Regions from separate parts of the Homo sapiens genome. Here region 1 is linked to region 2. Evidence: fine-mapped expression QTL. Tissue or cell type: whole blood. Region 2 holds a variant in brackets; the other region holds the start of a gene. All regions are shown on one strand. Distances are between the middles of the regions. Region 1 holds the start of TRIM41 (tripartite motif containing 41). Region 2 holds the start of TRIM7-AS1 (TRIM7 antisense RNA 1).

What was found.
Region 1: it holds the start of TRIM41, and the variant in region 2 is fine-mapped to the expression of TRIM41 in whole blood (INTERVAL, PIP above 0.99).

Annotation. Positions count from the first base shown.
Region 1 is chr5:181,219,959-181,228,129 of GRCh38, reverse strand. TRIM41 (tripartite motif containing 41) reads right to left here and starts at 4,849. Exons shown (of 6, transcript NM_033549.5): 1 at 3,318-4,849. The coding sequence starts at 4,130. TRK-CTT2-3 (tRNA-Lys (anticodon CTT) 2-3) reads left to right here and starts at 6,079; the gene lies at 6,079-6,151. It overlaps TRV-CAC1-5 (tRNA-Val (anticodon CAC) 1-5), which reads left to right and starts at 5,663; the gene lies at 5,663-5,735. MIR4638 (microRNA 4638) reads left to right here and starts at 5,497; the gene lies at 5,497-5,564. RefSeq lists enhancers at 2,956-3,953, 4,621-4,850 and silencers at 4,101-4,310, 5,581-5,810, 6,061-6,270.
Region 2 is chr5:181,191,919-181,200,384 of GRCh38, reverse strand. TRIM7 (tripartite motif containing 7) reads left to right here. Exons shown (of 7, transcript NM_203293.3): 3 at 304-534; 4 at 1,268-1,290; 5 at 1,580-1,695; 6 at 2,167-2,202; 7 at 4,708-6,461. The coding sequence ends at 5,219. It overlaps TRIM7-AS2 (TRIM7 antisense RNA 2), which reads right to left. Exons shown (of 2, transcript NR_183285.1): 1 at 8,245-8,466; 2 at 3,504-6,151. It overlaps TRIM7-AS1 (TRIM7 antisense RNA 1), which reads right to left and starts at 310. Exons shown (of 2, transcript XR_001743050.3): 1 at 1-310. RefSeq lists a silencer at 8,149-8,466. The variant G/A (reference allele first, on the strand shown) is at 4,770.

The DNA of each region.
Region 1 (8,171 bases), 28 kb before region 2:
TCCCGAGTAGCTGGGACTACAGGCACCCGCCACCATGCCCGGCCAACTTTCAAAACATTTAACTGTCGGGCAGACACAGTAATCCCAGCACTTTGAGGGGCCAAAATGGGAAGATTGCTTGAGGCCAGTGGTTCAAGACCAGCCTGAGCAACACAGCAAGACCCTGTCTCCACGAAAAAAAAAAAAAAAAAATTAGCTGGGCATGATGGCACACACCTCCAGTCCCAGCTACTACTCAGGATCACCTGAACCCAGAAGGTCAAGGCTGCAGTGAGCTATGATCATGCTACTGCATTCTAGCCTGGCCAGAGTGAGACCCTGTCTCAAAAAAAACAAAACAAACATGTAACTGTTCAGGAACTATATTTACATATCATTTGTGTGTTATTACCTATTCAACAAAAAAAATTTTTACAAAACATTTTGCCAAGCTACTGGTTACTGCATGTACATATCTGAAAAGAATAAATGACCCACTTGTGGCTGGGCGCGGTGCTCACGCCTGTAATCCCAGCACTTTGGGAGGCCGAGACGGGCAAATCAGAAGGTCAGGAGATCGATACCATCCTGGCTAACATGGTGAAATCCTGTCTCTACTAAAAATACAAAAAAATTAGCCAGGCGTGGTGGCAGTCGCCTGTAGTCCCAGCTACCTGGGAGGCTGAGGCAGGAGAATGGCGTGAACCTGGGATGCGGAGCTTGCAGTGAGCCGAGAACACGCCACTGGACTCCAGCCTGGGCGACAGAGCGAGACTCCATCTCAAAAAAAATAAAAATAAAAAAATAAATGACCCACTTGTAAAATAGCCTATTAAGTCAGAAAGGGAATCACTCAAATTAGTCCTATACAATAAAACTATGTATTTACATTTACTCATCACTTAATGTCAGATTAAATATGTGTATATGGCCTCCCAAACTGCAGAGCGCAGTAAACAGATCAAGAAAAGAGAGTATGGCCAGGCGCAGTGGTTCACGCCTGCAATCCTAGCACTTTGGGAGGCCAAGTTGGGCGGATCACCTGAGGTCAGGCGTTCGAGATCAGTCTGACCAACATGGAGAAATCCCGTCTCTACTAAAAATACAAAAAATTAGCCAGGTGTGGTGGCACATGCCTGTAATCCCAGCTACTCGGGAGGCTGAGGCAGGAGAATCGCTTGAATCCGAGGCAGAGGTTGCGGTGAGCCAAGATTGTGCCATTGCACTCCAGCCTGGGCAACAAGAGTGAAATTCTGTCTCAAAAAAAAAAAAAGGGGGGAAAAGAAAAGAGATTATGACTTTTTTTAATTCCTCACCTACTTCAGGACCTAATACGGGATTTCAGGCAGCTGGCATTGAACAAATTTGGCTAATGCAAATTAAAATCCAGTTTCAGAAGCTCCTTGGAGCAGTCCTACAGGGGGAGGTGAAAGAGAAAGGGTGGAATGCCCATGGATAGTTTGGCCTGGGTTCCTGTTCACAAAGTGACCACACATGATATGATGGGTATGGTTAACTAGGAACTGAGGAGATGGAAAGGACAACAGGACCTCACAATCTCTGCTAAAAATGCAGGGACTAACAGCTAGGCAATGTTACCAATGCAGTGATCCCCATGCTAGACTGGGCTTTTTAAAGATATTCTCCTACTCACTGATTCAGAAACTCTAGTGGTAGGATCCACTGTATTTTTGAAAACCTCCCCTAGTAATTCCAACAATCAGGCAGGTTTAACAATCTTTGTGTAGCCAGGCACAGTGGCTCATGTCTGTAATCCCAGCACTTTGGGAGGCCAAAACAGGCGGATCACCTGAGGTCAGGAATTTCAGAACAGCCTGGCCAACACGGTGAAACCCCATCTCTACTAAAAATACAAAAATCAGCCAGCTGTGGTGGCGAGTGCCTGTAATCCCAGATACTCAGGAGGCTGAAGCAGGAGAATCACTTGAACCCGGGAGGTGAAGGCTGCAGTGAGCCGAGATCATGCTACTGCACTTCAGCCTGGGCAATAGAGTGAGACTCCGTCTCAAAAAATTAAAAAAAAAAAAGGCCACTCTGTAAAAGAAATTGTTACTTGTGATGAGGTAATGTAGGTATGTCTAGCTGTACCACTCAGAGCTGAGAAACCCTAGACACATTACTCTAAAATTGGGGTAACGAAAATAATACCTAAATGAAGTTATAGCAGGAATCAGGAGAAGGTCTGAAAACATGAGTTATAAAACAAAAAAAGCTCTGTGCAGACCACACAGAGGCTACCCCCTCCTCCTCCTGGTCCCACTGCTTCAAACCCATCCAGGCCTTCACTAAGTAGTGCTATTTGTGCTGGCTGCCTTGCAAACAAATCTCCTTTACCTATGTCCAAAGAAGAGTCAAAATGAGAAGTAGGGGCAAGGTATTTGTCAAACTAGAATCAGACTCCAAGAAAGTCACATCAGAAAAGTCAAACAACAGACATCCAAATGGTGGTGGCGTTGTTAGTATACACCAGGGGAAGGGACAGTAAATAACTAAGTCAATTATTACTGAAGCTCTGTGGCCCTCTGTATGGTACTTAAAGCCTCTCTGACTTTGTTTCCCAATCTATAAAATGGGAATGGAAAACATATCAAACTCAGTGTTGTCTGGGTTTTAACGAGACAGTCCATGAAAAGTGCCTAGTACAGTGCCTGGTATACATATAAATGTCCAGTGAATATTAACTATCAATCCTGGACAAATTAAAGTCCAAAGACACTCACAGACTTAATCAAGATTTGACAATGCAACTTGCAGAGCCAGGTCTTCTGACTGAAAAGCTCCTGCTTTCTAGTCAGTGCATAAGAATGACACAGAGCCAACCAAAGTCCTTGAAGACAGAACCAAGCCATATCGTGGTAGGTGGGGAACCCACTGGGAGGCAAGTGCAGAGCATTTGGGTCTGACACTGACACTAGCAGTTATCTCTGTGTTCCTGCTTCTGAGCCTTTTCTTGTCCTTTGAAGCCCCCAGTTCTTTCCATCTCTAGGTGTCTCCGTCAAGGACAGACTTAAGACTCACCCGAAAGAAAACGAGACTTCTGGTAAAGCCCTAGAGACCTGATCTGGCATCACCGGCTTTGCTCTATTTGCTTTGAGGAAGCCATCCTTCCCTGGTCGTCTTCACTGCATCTGCTCTGTGTACAGAATCCTTCTCATTCTAATCCACCTTGGTGGCAGTAAGTGCTTAGATAAGCAAACTTGGCTCACCAATACCATGAGGTTCTTTGGTGGGTGAAGAGATGTTTCCTTTTCCCAGGTCCCCTTACTTCCTCTCCATCCCCCCACTAAACTCCCATCTTCTCTCTGTACTTCTCTCACCTTGTACTCCTGCACCACCTCCTCCAATGGCACCACGCTGTGCTGTTTGTGGCTCCTGGATTCTCGGCACACCACACAGATGGCCTCTTCGTCTACCTCGCAGAAGAGCTTCAGGGCTTCTTGGTGTTTGGGACAGATGCCCTGATCGGTCACGCGGCTCCCTCGACCAGGGGTTGGGTGCATCTGCCGAATCACCTGGACCATATTGGCCAGCTGCAGGTTGGGGCGGAAGCTCCGCCGAGGAAAGCTCTTTCGGCACTGAGGGCATGTGAAGCACCTCCGAGGGGCTGGAGGCGGGGGCAGTGGGGTGACGGGGTCTAGATCCTCTTCCTCAACCTCCTCCAGCACTTCCTCCTCGTCCTCCTCATCCTCCCCCCTCAGGTCCTCCTCCTCCATGTCCCCCAAGTAGTAGTCCAGGTCTTCCTCCTCGTCCTCCTCCTCCCACACATAGTCCATGTTGTCCCAGCTGGACCTGCTCATGCCACTGGTCCAGAACACACCCTCTTCTTCCTCCTCGACCTCCTCCTCCATGTCACCCTCGTAGTCTTCATCCCGCATGGGGGTGTCCCACCCCGCGCCAGCCCCCACAGCCTCCACTTCCTCCTCCTCTCCGTCCTCCTCCTCCTCCTCCCGATCTAACTCATCTCTGTCCTCCTCATCCTCCCCACCCCACAACTGGGTTACACAAACTCGGCAGAAGTTGTGCCCGCAGCCGATGGACACGGGGTCCGTGAAGTAATCGAGGCAGATGGCGCACACCGCCTCCTCCTGAAGGGTCTGCACAGGGTTGGGTGTCATGGCAACGGCAGCCATCTTAGTGTCCAGCCAGCCAGTGTAGAGGTTCGGTGGGGGGGCGAGGGGCGGGGGTCTTCCCTACCGACGCCCTGGCGACCCGGCTCCACCCCCAGCCCTGCCCCTCCACACCTCGCCCCAAGAGCAGCCAGAGAGATGTCCTGCCGACAACCCACCCCAACACAGTGTTCCCTACTCCCAAACGACAACCGTGTCTCTACGAGGGGAGGGGACAGTGCTGGGCGCCACCGCCAAGTCCCTCAGGTGGCTCTGAGTACAAGTCTGCCCCAATGCTCCCTTGGACTCCTCATAAACCCCCGCCCCTCCTCACTTCCTGGCCCCGCCCCTAGCTTCCGGCCTCCTTCCCAACACTTCCGGCGTCTACACACCACCTAAGCTCGCGACTTCCCTCCGCTGTCCTGCTACTCCCCCTTTTTCCCCGCGGGGCCCCAGGGCGACAGGAAATGGCGAGGAGACGCTCTAGTCCGCACTAGAGAACAGGGCGGGAGGGCTAGGACGGTGGAGGCCCGCGTCTCTGTGGTAAGAGGCCGCGGGGAACGCAGAAAGAACAGAGGAACCGCCTACCCCCATCCCCCGCCGCTGGGGAGAAACTTCGGGGGGTAGGGGGAGCGCCTGGCGGCCGTCTGCTTTCGGTGCTATCACCGCATCGGCCAGACGCCATCCTACCCTCCCGGCACAGCCGACTGCAGCCGGTACTCCCCACAGCCGATGCCGGAAGCGAGGGGGTGGGTCCGCGGCGCGCCCTGAAGTACTTCCGGCCCTTCTAGGCAGACGACTTCGTTGTGGAGGACTCAGAGGGTCGTCCGGGTCGGACCGGGGGCGGGGCCTGAGAAAGCGCTTCGCGGGTTAGGGCAGCAGACGCCCCACCCTTCCCCAACTGTAGTCGGCGTTTCGCATCCGAGGTAGAAACTGCCAACCGGACACTGTCTCATGGTTTAGATGAACTTCCCTAACTGCCCAGCAGTGAAGAAGTGGTGACGAATCATTACATCTACATTCTCACAGCATCTCTGCAAAAATAGATGCTTTGTGCGGTAGAAATAATACTTGATGCTTAAATAGCTCTTTAAATTTTATTTTTATAGAGATTTGATGTCGATACATAAATAAATAAATGTTGTTTGATGCGAGAAAAATGACGGGGCCATGATTTATGTACAGAATCTCCAGTGAGTGCCAGACACAGCGTGACGCCAGGGCTGGGCCTGCAGAACTTACCCTGCTCTCAAGGCGGCTCGCGGGAAAACTCCAGATGGACGTCGCGCTTCCTAGGGGGGTGGTCAGGCCTCTGAGTATGTCAGATCAAACGCGCCAAAAACCACGAACCCTCGTGGGTGAACTATGCTAGGCCATTACAGGACCTGCGGACTCGGCTGCGGTGGACAAGTCCGGCTCCAGAACCTGGACACCGCTCAGCCGGCCGCGGCAGGGGTCCCCGGGCCTGTCCTACAAGGGCGCTTGCCTAGAGCTATCCCGGCCGTCTCAGCCGTGTGTGTCTTCAGGACGATGCCGGCAGGAAAGTAGCCAAGGTGGTTTCCGTAGTGTAGTGGTTATCACGTTCGCCTCACACGCGAAAGGTCCCCGGTTCGAAACCGGGCGGAAACACGTTTTGGTCTGTTCGGGAGATTCTCTCCCGAGGCCGGCCTTACGTGGCAGGAAGGACATGTGTGTCCCTGCGCTTCGGAGGAACACGGACTGGGGCAAAACTGAAGGAGAGCACTACTCAAGTAAATTCAGGTCTCGCCCCTCACCTAATCTCTTGCTCTTCCCTTCTGAAGCCTATGCAGCCATCACATGTACAGGAATCCGTAGATTTCAGATCCTCGGCTCTAGTGCCTAGAACAGAGCCAGGCGCAGGCGCTTCTTAGTATTTGCACAGTGGAAACGTGCTTACACCTCTGAGGGTAACCTCCATCTTCAGAGACAAAGTTAGAATACAGACATGGCCGCCCGGCTAGCTCAGTCGGTAGAGCATGAGACTCTTAATCTCAGGGTCGTGGGTTCGAGCCCCACGTTGGGCGTAATTTCGCTTTTTGGAAAGGTTAAGGCAAGTTGTGTTACCTAAGTGCACAAATGGTATTCTCTGTACCAAGACCTAGTGGGTAGCAGATTCACCAACAGTGGGTGTTAGAACTTGGACTAACCTGGTGTTCTCCGATCCGTGTGTGGAAGGCCCCGAGCAGAATTCTCACAACGTTTGCACCCTCGCTAACTCTCAAAGAAAGAATGAGAGGCGGGTACCTGTGGACCAATTCCTGCAGGCCAGCACCGCGGGCTATCGTGCATGCATGACCCTTTGCTGTAGGCCACTCGCCCACGGGCAGCACATATTAGGCATTTTATGTTTACCAGACGGCCTGCCCCCGTCTTGCTGTGAGACTTGCTGTGCTGGAGGGAACAATGTGGTTTATCGAAACTGGGGTGAGACCGCAGGACGACCCCAGGCGTTCGTGAGCGTCAAAACCTATCTGATTCACTCCCACTTTACTGGGAGATTTAGTGGTTAGGCTTCCGCCTTTGTCTCGCTACGACCTGCTTTCGACTCCCTGTCAAGAAAGATGCTTTGTGTCATATGAGACACTTGTCTTCCGTATATTCTTTTTTATGCTCTTGACTTTAAGAGTCTATTTTTGTGAGATGTTGCCCCACAAATACCAGCCTCCACGTTTCCCCCATACATAAATAGAGATAAAAACGGGCCATGCGCCGCGGTGGCTTATGCCTGTAATCCCAATACTTTGGGTAAGCCAAGGCGGGAGGATCGCTTGAGCCCAGGATGGCCTCGAAATTAGTCCTGCAAATATAGGCCTTTTTTCTTTTTTTCTTCTCTTTCTTTCTTTCTTTTTTTTTTTTTTTTTTTAAGATGGAGTCTTGCTCTGTTTCCAGGCTGAAGTGCAGTGGCACCACCTCGGCTCACTACGACCTCCGCCTCCCGGGTTCAAGTGATTCCCCTGCCTCAGCCTCCCGAATAGCTGAGACTACAGGCGCGCCACCACGCCCGGCTAATTTTTTGTATTTAGTAGAAACGGGGTTTCACCATGTTGGCAGGACGGTCTCGATCTCCTGACCTCGTGATCCTCCTGCCTCAGCCTCCCAAAGTGCTGGGATGACAGGCGTGAGCCACCGCGCCTGGCCCCGTTTTGTATTTTTAAGCTGTCGAAGTCTCCTCCGCATACGCACCACACCACGAGAGAAGTCTGTTGATCATAGAAAGCTGGCTTAATCTCGCTGAGCAAAAGATAGCATCGTCTTCTGTCTCAGACGTAAATCAAAGCGGGGACTTATGAGGGCTATATAGTCTGTGAGGGCGGTCTGGGCAGAAGTTGGTCAACGTTTGTAAATAGGCAGAGTCGCTAGTACAATCCTAGCACATGAGTTACTGGTGTTCAAAGCTGGTGTTCAAAGAGTTTTAAGTTTGACATTTCGTCTTGCACAAATTATTTCGGATTCTTTTGCAGACTGTGATTTCAGGGTTATTTTTTACCACCTTCACTGGGACTGGAAAACATTCTTAAAGGATTCTGGCTTTTTCATTAAAGTGGAGATGAAGTGGACAGGCTTCTCTTCTTTGTCCTCTAGCAAGCCAAGGGAACGCCCGCTGGAGCTTTTTGCTACAATTCCTGCTTTCTCTCCTCTCCACCCCTTCCACCCGTCGCCGCTCTGGCCAGGTCAGGTTTGGGATGCCCCTCCAGGCAAGTGACCCAAGCTGCTCCGGGCACAAAGGCGGCAAGCGTTCAACAGTCGGAGAAGCACGACACACACATGAACCTGGTGGGATCTTTGGCCTCCTCCCAAACCCTGTGGTGATGGGGCCTGGGGAGACTGAGGGACTCACTCTGATTTATATTTCAGGGGGTTCCTTCAGGAGTGATGCAAACAGGGAGTATGAGGGGGAGTAAGACTGTCGGAGACAGGGGCTGGAAGGACACAGGCCTGGTCCATACAGGAGGCGGCCGGCGCCGGGTGAGGCGGCAGCCAGAGGGAGACGCAGGTGAAGGAGCGGGATGCAAGGCTTGCAGCGGCGATAGATTTGGGTAGTTC
Region 2 (8,466 bases):
GCTGCAGCTTGGCGTAGTTCTGGGGGGAGTATGAAGCTGCCTTGGTTTAGGTGATGGAGCACAGGTCCACAGACATGTGTGGGTGCATCTGTGGCAGGGGAGAAAAGAGCATGTGTCCAGACTACAGCTTGTTCAGAGCTGGGACACTGACAATAGAGCACGCACTGCGTGCGTAGGTGGGTGTGTCTCCGATCCTCCAGCAGTGACAGGGACGAAGCCTTGCCCTGTGGGATGACTCAGGCCACTGGCCAAATGTTATGTCTCCATGTTCAAGTCCCTCTCCAACTTCTCCTCCTGGGACAGAAACAGATGGCAGCGGAGCAGGAGAAGGTGGGGGCAGAGTTCCAGGCACTGAGGGCTTTCCTGGTGGAGCAGGAGGGTCGGCTGCTAGGCCGCCTGGAGGAACTGTCCCGGGAGGTGGCACAGAAGCAGAATGAGAACCTGGCCCAGCTCGGGGTTGAGATCACCCAGCTGTCCAAGCTCAGCAGCCAGATCCAGGAGACAGCTCAAAAGCCTGACCTTGACTTTCTCCAGGTAAGTCTGGCTCAGCCAGGGGCTCGAGTCATTTATCCTAAGGCATCAGGACCAGCAGCTAGAGAACAGTGTCAGTCCTGGGGGGTCTAGGAGAATCACATGATCTGGAGCTGAAGGGGACTGGAGAGAAGTGCCCTGATTTTCCTGGGGTTGGAGGTCTAGAGAGATGTGAAAACTTTCTTGACTATGAGCCACAATAATATATATCGTATTTCAGAATCACAAGCTTGAGACAAAAGTCTCAGAAAATAATACTCACCTTTGCTACACGTATGCACTTTGATGTTTTCTATTCTATTTCGCTAAAAAAAAAGTTATAAACAACTAGATAAACTTCACAATCCATAGATGGGTTAAGAACAGTCATTATGGGGCTGAGTGAGCAGTAGGTGCATAAGGGCTGTGACCTCCCTCAGGTGGTTTCCAGGACACACGCAGCACTGGGTCCCATGGGATAGCTCCAGTGATGATTCTGTAACTAAGAAAGCAGCAAAGATAGAAAGAAAGCACGTGAAGAGTTGTGGCAAAGGGTGAGAGGTCCACTGCGTGGGTGAGACACCCTGCAGCCAGCAGCCACTGGAAGCTGCTGCCCCTGAGGCCCACGCAGGCAGTGAGGCGTGGCACACTTGCTTATGCTTACATCTGGGAGGCACAGCAAGGGGCAAGCTTTGTTTCTCAGAGGTGAATGGAGGTTACCTGATGCTGATTTGGTTTCCTCTATCTTTCCTTCCAGGAATTCAAAAGCACGCTGAGCAGGTGAGTGACCTCACAGCTCCTGGGGCCTCTCTAAGTTGCTTCTTCCCTTTTCACTGAGCCTTGTCTTTATTCCCTGTCCCCTGACCTCTCACCTCCTGATCCCCCGACTTGCTTGCCTGGGGACCTTCCGAGACAAACGCCCACCTGCCTGGCCATGGGTTTTTCTGCATGAGGTCTGGCTCTCCCTTTTCTACCTCTTTCTGCCAAGAGGACCTCGCCATCCTAATTGTCACAGCCTGTGGGAGCAAAATGGTGCACACAGGCCCTTCTCAGAGCCCTTGTCCTGCAGGTGTAGCAATGTGCCTGGCCCCAAGCCAACCACAGTCTCTTCTGAGATGAAGAATAAAGTCTGGAATGTTTCTCTCAAGACCTTTGTCTTAAAAGGGATGCTGAAGAAGTTCAAAGGTAGGGGCCTGGGCGCCAAGCTGGGCCACATAGTGCGGTGGTGGTGGAGGGTTCCTGGTAGCTCAGGGGTCCCTGGGTGTGCTTTCCAGAAGCTGTGTGTGAAAATAGGAGCTGGCTGTGCCATGGCCAGATTGGTGTAGGGGCTGTGGTGGCAAATCTAGTCAGGCCCCCGCAGGGCATGCCGCTTCTCATGGGCACAGATGGGGTAGAGGGGTACTGCTGGGGGACTGGGGTTAGGAAGAGAGCTGTGCAGGGGAGCTCAGCTCAGAGCCACTTGGGTAGAGCTAGAATGCTTGGGTATGGGCCCCCTGCCCCCCGCTCCCCATGCTTGGCCCTGTGCCTGCACGTTCACTCTTGGCCTTAGGAGTCTCTGGGGAATGAATGAGTCAGTTGGGATATAAAGAGCTGGTGACCTTGCCATATAATCTCCCGTGTCGCTCATGCACGCCTTGCTTTGTTTCTCCTCCTCAGAGGACCTTCGGGGAGAGCTGGAGAAAGAGGAGAAAGGTAGGGATGGTGCTGTGATGGCGAGTATGGACTGTCTGCCACACAGAGATCCTACTCCCTGCTCGTGACCATCTCAGGGTTTTGCATATGGTCGGTTCCTTCAGCCCACCCACCTCAGCAACCCTGTTCCTCTGTCCCCTCCCCCACACCACCCCCTCCCCATCCTGGGAGCTCTGACACCCTCAGATGTTGGCCCAAATGCTGCAGGTTGGTTAGGAGCAGGAATGCCCTGTACCTCGAGATACTCAGACTGGGAAAGGCTTCTCGGCCACCTGGGTGAGCCTCTACCCGGTCCCCACTCCAAGATGGATGGAAACCTCTCCTGGGAATGGGGTGTATACAGGGGACCAGGAAAGCAAGGGGAAGCTAAAGACTGGAAGGAATATCGTTTTTACTCTTGCAAAGCTCTGGAATGTGTGGCATCCAACACCCAGAGGAGGGGAGGGGAGGGCACATATTCCTGATGCTGATGTCTGAGCTAAGTCAGAGTGTGTCTGGGTGCCACCTAAAACACCTGAGTGAGACCAGGCCCTCCTCTGCTCAGAGCCCTGCCACAGCCCCTCTGACTTGGTAAAGGTCAGAGTCCCCATGGAGGTCTCAAGGGCCCACGGGCTCTAGCCTCACTGCACACCCCTTCTACTCCACGCAGCTACACATCCTCCCTGCTGTTCCTTCAGTGTACCAAGCACACACCCATCCCGGGGCCTTTGCACTGCCAGGCTCCCCCACCCCAGGCCCCTACCTGGAGCATGCTTTCCCCAGCCAGTCCTGTGGCCTGCTTCTTTGCCTTCTTTATATCTGTCTGCTCGATGCCCCTTTTCAGTGAGGGTCTTCCCTGGCCACTCTGGTTGAAGTTACAGCCTGCTCTTCTGGTCCCTCTCATCTTCTGTTTATAATCTATCCTCAATCCTCTCCCTGTGGGAAGGAAGCTGCAGGCAGGCAGGACTACTCTGATACTCTGTGGTACCCCCAGGGCCTCAATCGTAGTAGTGCTCACAGTAAGTGTACATATTTTAACTTTTTTTTTTTTTTTTGGAGACAAGGTATCGCTTTGTTGCCCAGGGTGGAGTGCAGTGGAACTGCAGCCTCCACCCCGCAAGCTCAAGCGATCCTCTCTCCTGGGCGTCCTCGAGTAGCTGGGACTACAGGAGCACACTACCATGCCTGGCTAAATTTTCTATGTTTTGTGGAGACGGATGTCTCGCTATATTGCCCAGGCTGGTCTCCAACACCTGGGCTCAAGCTGTCTTCCCACCTCTGCTTCCCAAAGTGCTAGGATTACAAGCATGAGCCTCTACACCTGGCCTTAACTTTTTATTATGAAAAATTTCAAACATACTCAAAAGTAGAGAGAAGAGTGTAAAGAATGTTACATACCCATCTCTCACCGTCCGCAGTGATCAATTAGTGGCCACAGTTTTCATAGACACTGCTATCCACTTCCTGTGGGATTATTTTGTTTTCTGAGACAGGGTCTTACTCTGGAGTGAGATCATGGAGTACAGTGGCCTGATCTCTGCTCACTGCAACCTCTGCCTCCTGGGTTCAAGCGATTCTCATGCCTCAGCCTCCCAAACAGCTGGAATTACAGGCACAGGACACCATGCCGGGCTAATTTTTGTATTTTTAGTAGAGAAAATACAAAACAAGTTTTCCGCCATGTTGCCCAAGCTGGTCCCAAACTTCTGACCTCATGTGACCCATTGGCCTTGGCCTCCCAAAGTGCTGGTATCGCAGCTGTGCACCATCTCACCCGGCCTCCACTGTATTATTGTTATTATTATTTTTATTTTTGAGACAGAGTCTTGCTCTGTCGCCCAGGCTGGAGTGCAGTGGCGTGATCTCAGCTCACTGCAATCTCCACCTCCCGGGTTCATGCCATTCTCCTGCCTCAGCCTCCCGAGTAGCTGGGACTACAGGCGCCCGCCACCACGCCCGGCTAATTTATTTTATTTTTTTATTTTTAGTAGAGACGGGGTTTCACCATGTTAGCCAGGATGTTCTTGATTTCCCGACCTCGTGATCCACACACCTTGGCCTCCCAAAGTGCTGGAATTACTGGCGTGAGCCACTGCGCCTGGCCTACTGTATTATTTTAAAGCATCAGAGACAACATATCATTGCCATAAATACCTCAGTGTGTTATCTCTAAAGAAACAGACTTTGTAAAACATAACCACAAAGCAGTCCTCACACCTGGACAGATTAATGATTCTTTCCAATGTCTAGCATTCAAATATCCCCATCTGTTGAATTGGGGTTCAAACCAGGCCCACACATTGCATTTGTTTGATTTCAGTAAGTACTTGTTGAGTGGTCGGGGCGGGGGGAAGCAAAATCTCTGGGAGGCAGAGCGTGGGGGTTGGTTGGGCCTTGGCGCTGGGTGCTGGGGGGATTCTAGAGGGAAAGGCAGGCAGGTTGCAAAGCAAGGTCGGGCGCGGCCCTGCAAAGACTGTGCCAGGGGCCTGGCTGCGTGGGGACATTTCTCCCTGTCTCTGTCTGCAGTGGAGCTCACCTTGGATCCCGACACGGCCAACCCGCGCCTCATCCTCTCTCTGGATCTTAAG[G/A]GCGTGCGCCTCGGCGAGCGGGCCCAGGACCTGCCCAACCACCCCTGCCGCTTCGACACCAACACCCGCGTCCTGGCGTCCTGCGGCTTCTCCTCGGGCCGGCATCACTGGGAGGTGGAGGTGGGCTCTAAGGACGGCTGGGCCTTTGGCGTGGCCCGCGAGAGCGTGCGCCGAAAGGGCCTGACGCCCTTCACTCCCGAGGAGGGCGTCTGGGCCCTGCAGCTCAACGGCGGCCAGTACTGGGCCGTGACCAGCCCCGAGCGGTCGCCCCTCAGCTGCGGGCACCTGTCGCGCGTGCGGGTGGCCCTGGACCTGGAGGTGGGAGCCGTGTCCTTCTACGCTGTGGAGGACATGCGCCACCTCTACACCTTCCGCGTCAACTTCCAGGAGCGCGTGTTCCCGCTTTTCTCTGTTTGCTCCACGGGCACCTACTTGCGAATCTGGCCTTGAGGGGCACTGCTGGGGAGCTCCTGTCTCTGGGCTGCCGGTGGGAGGGGATGTCGCCTCCCCAGAGATGCCTGGTCCGTCTTGGGTCTGCCCTCCGTGCTCCTGACCCCTGCTGCCCAAGAGAGCCTGCTACAGACACAACCCCGAGGCAGGAGAGTGACTGTGGCCAACCGAGCAGGGGAACAGGGGCTTTGGACTCCTGAGGGTGTTCCCTTCCTGAGGTCACATGTGGATTTGGCCAGAGCCTTCAGGAGGTGGAGGCCGGTGAGGTCAGGAGCCCAGCTCTCCAGGGGGCTTCTGCCCTGACTGGGAAGGGTGCCTGGCTCCCTAAAACAATGTCAAAGCCAGTCCTGCTGTTCTCTGTTGCCAGGGGGCAGGTCTGGGCCTGGGCCAACCACGTTTGTTATCATGGCTGCTGCCTTCTGGACAGCTGCCAGCTCTGCCTTGAGAGGTTGTGGGACCTCTGGATCCAGCTGACCTGACAGGTCATCTACTCAGGGAGGAGCCCTGTGCTCCCAGCTCAGAGGACAGTCTGGGCCAGAACTGGAAGGAGACATCTGTCCCGTCTTTGAGTGACAAGCCCGGGACAACAGCCAGTGGGCATCACGGCTCTCCAGCACTCCTTAGCCGGAGGATACAGAGTGATGGGTGCATCCTGACCAATGCGACAACCAACACGTGCTCTCACAAACCCCTGACTCCCGCACTTTCCAGTGCCAAAGTACAAACGCTGCTTGGATAAGGAGAGCAAAGCTTCTGGAACTTTATTTACTCTTTCTTTTTAATTTTCTTTTAAGAGACTGGGTCTTGCTATGTTGCCCAGGCTGGTCTTGAACTCCTGGCCTCAAGTGATCCTCCAGTTTCCATCTCCCTAAGAGCTGGGATTACAGGTGTGAGCCGCTGTACCCGAACTTTTTTTGTTTTTGCTTCTGGAACTTTGAAACACAAAACACAAGTTGGCACTTACAATTTTAAAGATGCAGCCAGCTCTAAACAACACACAGAGCACAAATATGCTCCTGACGGACTCAGGAAAATGCCAACAGCAGAGCACCCTGGTGCCAAGGCCTTCTCAGCCCATGCCCTGGAGGGCATTCCCCTGGCCAGCCTCAGCCCCTTGTCTACTTGTTCTCCAGCTTCTGGGTAGCTGGGCTTCTGGAAGGGTGGCAGTGGGCTACTCCCTGCTCAGCGCTCCCCTGGGAAGGGGGTGAGGAGATGAAAATGAAACTATGAGCTGTCTTTGGAGTTGGCTTGGCCCATTTTCTACTCCCTAGATCTGAGTGCAGGAGCGTAAGTGTGATCAGGGTTTCTGCCAGAGTGAATGAGCATGCATGTTTCTGTGTGGGAGGAGTGTGTATTTGTATCTCACCTTTCTTGGGGGTGTGTGTGTGTATTTTGGAGAGGGCATTTATGAGCATGTGCATAAGGTTCAGGTGTTGCAAACAGACCCAAGTCAGTCTGGTCATACCCTATTGTTGATTTGTTGTTAAATACTGACCACCTCATATTTAGACAAGGGCCACAGGTTTCTTCTCTCACTACCTGGCTACCAGGCTAGATGAACAGAATACCAGACTCGGACCTAATTCTGTCCCACACAAGTTATTTAGACAGAGGTGCTGGCAAACAGGGGCAATGATAGCTGAATAGCCCTGTGTCATGGAGCTTCAGTGCTCTGTCTCTGAGGTGCTTCAAGCTCACCTGGCATATAGGGTTCTCGTGGGGCAGCCACAACACTATCCCAGAGGCAGGCCCAGTTGACACAGCACCAGACAATCAGAATACCGCATCCTCCAGGCTGAGGACAGGGTCATTTCAAAGTCCTGCCTACAGAAGCATTCCAGAGAGTGAATCCTATGTCCTGCTCATACATGGAGAGCAGCTCTAAAACCGGGTAGCCAATTCAGGCATTTGAATACCACTGATTTCCACAAGGAAAACCGATCTCTAACATTAATTTCCTAACTGAATCACCTATTGTTACCGTTAAGCCTTAATGTTATCTGGCTTGTATGGCTTTTTGATTAAGTATCATAATTCCCTTTGTACCATCCAACAAATGTGCTGGGCATCACAACACACATTACAGGTCCCAGAAAGTACCATGTCTGGTGAAGGTGTCACATGAGGGTCAGGTCTGGGGACTGGGAGTAGCTGTCCGCATGTTTATTTTCCGTTTTTGTGTCCATGAGTGCAATCGTGTGTCTATCAGAGTGTGTGTGTTTGCAGAGTGACTACATATATAGCTATGTATCTTAAGAAATGTAACAACAGTTACTGTAACAATTGCATAGAGAAGGGAACAGATGTTCTTTCTTGCTAACCAGGGCAGTACAGTAACTTGGATGTCAGGATGCTGGTGTCCTCGAGGGCATGTGTGTGCATTTCCCTCTCCTAGACTCTGGGCATCATAAACTCTAGGGACCTCTGGGTCTGTGAGAACAACTGGCCTAACTTGGGCCCTTCTTATTCAACCCATCAGTCCTAGCTGCTGACCCATAAGCGCAGGCCTCTGCCGCCAGACCCTCACAGGGACCCTCAGCATCCAGAATGGGGGGCACCTAGAGGCCCACCTCTGGCCTGGCCGCCCAGTGACCCAAGTCACCCGGCATTGCAGGGAGCACAGGGCAGGCTAGGCCACCAGACCAAGGTCCACCTCCTACACCCACCACTTTCTGTCCTTTGCCAGGCTGAGCCCTCATCCTTTTCCCCTCTCCTCCGGCCCGTGGGCCCTTTAAGGGCCCTGACAGAACATGTCAGGGTGTACCCTAAAAGCTGCCTTTTCCTACTTCATCCAAATGTGAGACGGGGCTGGCACCCACCCGCAACCTCGCCTGGACCCTTCCCACCCCAGCGCCTCCAAACACCTGGCCCTCCTGATTCCCCGCCTCCCCCGCCACACTCCCGCTGGGCCTCCACCTCCTGATGACCCCACTGTTCCCCCACCGCCCAGCTCGCCCCAGGTCCCGCCCTAACCTCTCGGATCTGGACTCCCTGCAGGACGGGCGCACTGACACCCTTCCCTGACCTTTCCATAGCCTTGACCTGGATCCCCGCTTCCTCACGCACAGCAAGACGCAAAACGTGCTCCCCAATCCTGCGCACGCCCTTCCCTGGCCCCCGCCCCGCCCAAGGCCCGGGGCGGTCCTCACAGCTCGGAGCTCGGCGGTGCCGCCCCGCCCCGACAGCTCCCGCCCGCGCGCGCGCCCAACGACGGCACTGTCTTCGCGGAGCCCTCTGCCGGGACTAA